Homo sapiens: one gene and its partner. The protein of the gene in region 2 interacts with the protein of the main gene of each other region in a pairwise test. Each region holds a gene or a part of one and is shown on either strand. Other genes may lie near its edges.

Region 1 (3,500 bases), on a different chromosome or scaffold from region 2:
TACCAGGCATGCTTGCACACAAAGGACCATGTGAAGACACTGTAGGAAGGCAGCCATCTGAAAGCCAGGAAGAGAGGCCTCAGAAGAAACCAAACCTGCTGACCCCTTGATCTTGGACTTCCCAGCCTCCAGAGCTGTGAGGAAATAAATGTATGCTGTTTGAGCCACCCAGTTTGTGATATTTGATTGTGACAGTGCTAGCAGACTAATACAGTAAGTATTTAGTAAATGTGGAAAACAACAGACTGGATGGTGTTGAGGACTTAAAAAGATATAAAACAAAGTCTCTGCCCTCCGTGAGGTTACAATTTAGTGATCCCAACACAGTTCGAGCCTTGTCTTGGGCAGCTTCACCGCACCTACGACTTAACCTTGGAAAGTGCCGTAGGCCCTACCTGCCGCTGCTGCAGCTGCTGCAGGCCATGCTGCCGTTCTTCCTCTGAATTGTAGAAGGGCATGGAAGTGCGCAGTGGAATCAAGAGCTGACATATTTTCTCATGGATGCTGTCCCAGTCAGCCTTCTGATGTACCACCCCACTGACAACGGAAACATAGACTTTATGATCTTTATATTTGGCATGACTTAAGATTCCATTAACCCTCCTACTGGCCTATCCCTAGACACCAGAAAAGTAAGCCAAATACAAACCAGGCAGGGAGCTCAAAGCCATTTCTGAGACTCAAATCTCTTTCCTTTCATGTGGTTATTTGATGATGTATAAACTGTGTTGGGATTGGAGAGTATGTTGTTTCTGCAGGCACACATTCACATTCTGAAGTCACACAGGGATGCTGGCATGCAATTGCTCATAGTGTTCTCTTATAATCTCTTTTATTTCTGCAAGGTTGGTAGTAATGTCCTCACTTTCATTTCTGATTTTAGTAATCTGAATCTTCTTTTCTAGGCCAGTCAACCTAGCTAAAGGTTTGTCAATTTTGTTGGTCTTTTCAAGGAGCCAACTTTTGGTCTCATCAGTTCTCTCTGTAGTTTCTTTATTCTCTGTTTTATCTCTGCTATAATCTTTAATTTTCCTTTCTTCTGCTAGCTTGTGTCTATACCCAACACAGGGCTGTGCATAAAGGAGTTTATAAATATGTTTTAGTTTGCTCTTCTTTTTCTAGTTTCTTAAGATGAAATGCTAGGTTACTGATTTGAGATCTTCTTTTCAATGTAATGTATATTAGTATAAATTCATATGAGTACTAAATTCATACAGTAACCTCTGAGTACTGCTTTGCCAGCATCTAAGTTTTAGTATGTTGTTTTTGTTTTCATTTATCTCAAAGCATTTTCTAATTTCCTTTGTAATTTCTTCTGTGACTCATTGGTTAAGAGTGTGTTATTTCTACATATTTGTAAATTTACCAAATTTCCTTGTTATTGACTACTAATTTCATTCCATGTAGGTGGAGAACATACTCTGTATGAAATCAATCTCTATAAATTTATTGAGATTTATTTTATGGTCTAATATATGTTCTATCCTGAATAATGTTCTATACGCACTAGAGAAGAATAGGCATTCTCATGTTATTGAATGGTGTTCTACAGATACCTGTTAGGTCTAGTTGGTTTATAGCGTGATTCAAGTCTTATATTTCCTTGCTGATCTGTCTAATTGTTCTATGCATTACTGAAAGTGGGATATTTGATCTTCTATCTAGTTGTTCTATTCATTACTGAGAGTGGGATACTGGATCTTTCATCTAGTTGTTCTGTTCATCACTGAAGGTAGGATATTGAAGTCTTCAACCATTATTATTAAATTGTCTATTTTTCTCCCCAGTTCTGTCTGTTTTTGCTGCATGTATTTTGAGGCTCTGTTGTTAGATGCATAGTCATGGGTTTTTGCATTTCTATTGCTTATTACACATTTTCACTTAAATGTAAGTTAACTGTTTGATTCCATTTATACATATTTCAAAACAGGTAACAATAATCTAGAGGAGGGATCAGAAAAGCTTTTCTGTAAAGGGTCAGATAAATATTTTAGGCTTGAGAGCTATAGGATCTCTGTTGCAACTACTCAACTCTGCTGTTGTAGCACAAAAGCAGCCACAGACAATATATAGCCATGTTCAAGCACCTTCTTGGACAATATTGCCACCTTCTTGGACAATAGAAATGCAATTAAAGTATATTCTTTACAAGTTGTGACTGCTACCAAAGAAATGACAGAAACCATTTAAAATGTTTTTGGGGAGGTAGAGAATTATTATAAACAGATCAATAAAAGCACTTAGCCAGGATATAGCTGAGTTCCACAGGGAATTTATCAAGTGGGGCTTGTAAGCAATGGAAATGTTAACTTAGATGCCTGAACTTTTGTTCCACTGAGAGCCACTAACATATCTTGCCTTTCTAAATAAAGTGAGCTTTATTTATATATTTGCGGGCTCCCTGCTTATTGATCTGTCCCACCTGTAACACCTAACACAGGGTCAGGGATAAAGTAGGAATGGATAAATGCTTTCAATCAGGGCTCACAATTAAGTAGCTTGTGAGCCACATGTTTTGTTTGGCTATTATCATGTTTTTTTTTAAGCTGAATTTGAATATCTTTAGGTAGGGCATTCATTCTACAATTCACCACTGATCCTATAGCTTCCTATTATTGAATACCACTTCACTGTTTGTTTTCTTAGTGATCTGCAATATTTTTTGCAATAATTTTTCCTTTTGTTTGACATATGAAGCGCAAATTTAAATGCCGTCACTGGCCAGGAGAAGAAAACGAATGGTGAAGTGGTATTCAAGAACAGGAAGCAATAGTATTTGTAGTGAATTACAGAATGTACGCCCTGACTAAAGACATTTAAATTCATGCAAACCTATGGTACTGAAGTCTCTTTTACTTGTCACCAATGTTTTAGTATGTACTTCCATAAAATTACCTTTTCTTAAAAATGTTCTACTGTCCTGTAATCCCAGCACTTTGGGAGGCCGAGGAGGGCGGATCACAAGGTCAGGAATTCGAGACCAGCCTGACCAATATGGTGAAACACCGTCTCTACTAAAAATACAAAAAAATTAGCCAGGCGTGGTGGCGCATCCCTGTAATCCCAGCTACTTGGGAGGCTGAGGCAAGAGAATTGCTTGAACCCGGGAGACAGAGGTTGCAGTGAGCCAAGATGGTGCCACTGCGCTCCAGCCTGGGTGACAGAGCAAGACTCCGTCTCAAAAAAATAATAAAAAAATAAAAGTTCTACTGTGTCTCTAAAGTAAATAAAAATGTGCTATTCTCTGAGAATGGTCATAATCCACTATAGAGCAATATGCACAAGATTACACACAATATATAAAATAAATGTATTCAGAGAAAAGAAGGAAATTCACCAAAATTTCAGGTTATTAATCCCTGGGTTGTGGGACTATGGCTTATTTTTCTTCTTGATTTTTTATATTTTCAGGTTTTCTGCAGTGAGCATGAATTGCAATTATAATCAGGAAAAAAATTCTTTTGCAGAAAAAAACTTTCACAAATTCAGACTGACTTTCT
Region 2 (3,500 bases):
TTCAGGGACACAGGGAGACTGCCCTGATGCAGCAGGGGGAGCAGAGAGGCAGGGCTGGATGAGGTCGAGGGAGCTGTCCAGGGAAGGACGATGGGGCAGCCCTTATTCACAGGGGATGGGTAGGTCTTGTGCAGTATCATTTGGCATCTGTTACCTACTGTTCCTATTTCTTTGTGAACCTGCTATGTGTAAGGCCCAGTGCTAGGCATTTATATATACAGACTCTCTTCCCCCATGTTGTAAGCTTCTTGGGGGCAGGGAATGTGCCATACGTTTCCATATCCCTAACGCCTAGCATGATGCCTTCCAGAGAGGTGCTCATTTGTGCCCTACCAAAGGGTTCACGGAAGGATGCAGAGGTAGAGCTCACTACTGCTCACAGACACACCACATTTGAGGACATCAGGCAGGTGCTCTTGGGGGTCCACCAGGTGAGCCACCTCCTCTTAGGAGCTGGGGCTATCTATACAGGTTCATCTGGGCTGTGGTGGGCGTAGTAGGAGCACTGCCCCAATTTCTTCTGCCCTCTTCCAGGCAGAAGTGGCTATGTGGCCTGGCATGGTGGGCTCCTTGGCTGGTTGGCGAAGCGTCTGCATGAGATGCTATCTCGCCAGCTGAGTGGGGCCTGACTGTGGGCAGAGCCACGAGAAGGGAGGGTGGCGGGGCTCTCTCTTACCTTTCAGCATTTGCCACCTGAGGCACCAAGCACAGATCAGCCATGGTCACCTGAAAGAGGTCCCGGTGGGTTCCCATCAGGGTGCATACCCCAGAGTCAGTGGCTGGACTGGGTGTGTCCACTGCGACTCTACTGGGGGTACCAACAATCTGCTTCGGCTCTTTCACCCATCCCACCTCCAATTCTTGTCTGCCCTAGGCCTGCATGAGTCTGTCCCCCGGAGCTGAAGTGCCCTCCCAGGCCATGCTCCAGTTGCCCTGACAACCAACTCTGTGGGTTGAGAGGGCCAGAGAAGATGGATTGCCTTGACTGCGCAGACATCATCTAGCACAATCCCTCAACTGATGCTGGCCCGCCTCATCCTCTCACAGCCAGTCTTCTACCTTGAGTAACTCCCTCTTAAGACGGTTTAGTGGGAGTGAGCTGAGGAGTGCCCCATGGCACAGAGATCCCCCTGCAGACGCCTTCTCAGGAAGCTCTGAGCTTGAGGGAGGTCAGCATGAGGGAGGCAGCCACTGTGGCTGGGCCTGGGGAGGTCTGGGGACAGCTTACCTCGTCTCCTACACAGTATATGCCCGCTGTGCTCTGTAGGATCTGCTCCAGGGCTGTGGGGAGGCCACATAAACATCTTATTCTGGGCGCAGGGAGGGGACACAAAGCTTTCTGGGCCTTGGCCTCCATAGTTATGAAATGGGCGCCCAACTGAGTGACAGACTGGGCATGGCTGCTGGTGAGAATGTGGCAGCCAGGTCTCGAGAGAGCTGTTAGGGATGAGCTGCTGTTTCCTGAGGCTCCGCACAGACAATCACCATTTCCCCACTCGAGTGGACAAGCCCTGCCACTGGCCACGGTGACAGCTCTCACTCTGATGGCTGGCGCTGTGCTGGCCTTGGTTTCCCAGCTGGAGTAGGCAGTGAAGCTGAAGTTGGGCCATCCAGCTATGAAGGGCTGTGGGCTCAGGGACCGAGGTTCCCAGAAGTGCTGGAGCTAAGGTCTGGATGCCCACCCAGCCCATTGCCTCCCCAGTCCTGCCCTCATCCATGCAACTGTCAGGCCCAAAGCAGCCTGGGAGGCTGGTTCAGATACCCAGGCCCCTGTGTGCGAGGGCCATACCTCTAAGAGGCCACTGTGGGGCAGCTCACAGAGGTGAGGACTCACCGTTAAAGCCACAAGTGATGGCGTTCTGGGCCCAGGTCAGCTGCATCTCCTCTCCCACTTGCTTCAGGACAGACAGGTTCTGTGCAGCCCAAAGAAAATCTGTGATTGCGCTGACAGCTGGGTGGGGGCTACCCCTTCGCCAAACCCCCTCAGGGAAGTTCACTTCCCATCTGCCCCTGGCTGGATGTCTATCCCTTCTCCCCCAGGCTCCATGAGCCCCTTCCTTCAACCAAGGGCCCTGAGGTTGGAGGGAGGTAGCCATCCCAGCAGCCACCTTTGCAGGCTGCCCCAGTGGCCTCAAAAAGCCACGTGATTCTGTCAGAGATGTGCAAGAATCCCTATTCATGTGACACAGGACGCGGCCATGGCTGTGGCAGGTGTGCCCACAACTCGAGGCCTGTCTCCCTCACTTCTCCCTTGCATGGTCCCTTGTGAGGAGAGGGAGTGTGAAAGAGGGTGGGGCTGGGATGAGGGAGGTCCACAAGACCGGCTTCCAGAGATTTCCAGCCTGGCTCCATCTTGGCACCCCTGGAGCCATTTTCCCTCTGTTTCCTCATTATAAAATGGAGATGTCTGTCTGCTCCAACATCCTTTGTTAAAGCGACATGCGGGTAGAGGGCATAGGCATGCAGGGATTCTGACTTAGTCCCCACTTTGTTATGACCTACCTGTGGGACTCCTAAGTCACTCCACCTTTCTGGGGCTATTTCCTCATTCAGAGTAGAAGCTGGCACAGATGAACTGTTTTTAATACTTAGTTGTCTGTTTTAACAGTGACACTTAAAAAATAAAATCCTACAAGTATCCCAGTATATGACTGAGATAGCACAGATGAAACGGAAGCTGCTCTGGTTAAAGGCAGGAGGCCTGGACTGGGGCCTGCTCAGTCTCTCCCCTGCCATTCTGGCCCTTTCCCCACCCCAAGCACCTGTACATGCGTCCTTGGAAACTAGAGCTTCTCGGAACGCAGCGGGGGACCCGCTGGGGGGCTGAATTCTGAGATTGCGATCTTCACCCCCTTCTTTCACATGGTCCAGGTCAGAGGCCCTGAGAATCCCCCTCCCTCCCTTGACACCCCCGCCCCCACACTGGGCAGCTCACAGCCAATGTGTGAGTGTAAGAGTGTGTCAGGTGTGCAAGGGTGCAAGTGTACAAGTGCCACACCTGCAGGGGCTGGATGCCACCAGCGATGAGGTCAGAAATCATACGCACGCTGGCCCTCTTCTTTGGGTCCTGAGGCAGAAGTCGCGGAGTGGGACGCATCTCCTCTAGATACTCAATGATGGCCAGCTGTCCAGAGGGGAGCAGTGAGGCAGGGAGAGGGCCCAGGACCCCTGGACCAGAGGGGACAGGGCCAGCAAACTCCTCCTTCTCCTCTTCCAGCACCATCACTACACCTCTTCCCCCCTGCTTCTGCTCAGCTCAAGCCCTATAAGCCTTTTTGGACCTTATCATGCAGAACTTGGTTCTCCATGTGCTTGAATCTTCCCTTATTTTCCTAAATAACCTCGCACCCTCCCCACGAGTCTTGTATTGAGCCTCTCCTATGTGCTAGGCACCTTGACTGTACACAGGCGAGGAAGAGATGTCAGGCGCTCTCATTCAGGGCACTGCTCTCATGAGGGCCCTCCCCCAGGCCCTGCACTCACTGACTGGTGAATGGTGA

Evidence for each region.
Region 1: the proteins of GSTZ1 (region 2) and ZMYND12 interact in binary tests that used the Homo sapiens proteins (3 or more experiments, as listed by UniProt).

What each region holds. Positions count from the first base shown.
Region 1 is NC_000001.11:42,449,523-42,453,022, forward strand, and holds part of ZMYND12 (zinc finger MYND domain-containing protein 12), read right to left. Parts: intron 538-3,500; coding exon 396-537; intron 1-395. UniProt on the Homo sapiens protein: Required for sperm flagellum function and male fertility.
Region 2 is NC_000014.9:77,327,536-77,331,035, reverse strand, and holds part of GSTZ1 (maleylacetoacetate isomerase), read right to left. Parts: coding exon 3,484-3,500; intron 3,125-3,483; coding exon 2,999-3,124; intron 1,914-2,998; coding exon 1,835-1,913; intron 1,282-1,834; coding exon 1,229-1,281; intron 727-1,228; coding exon 677-726; intron 1-676.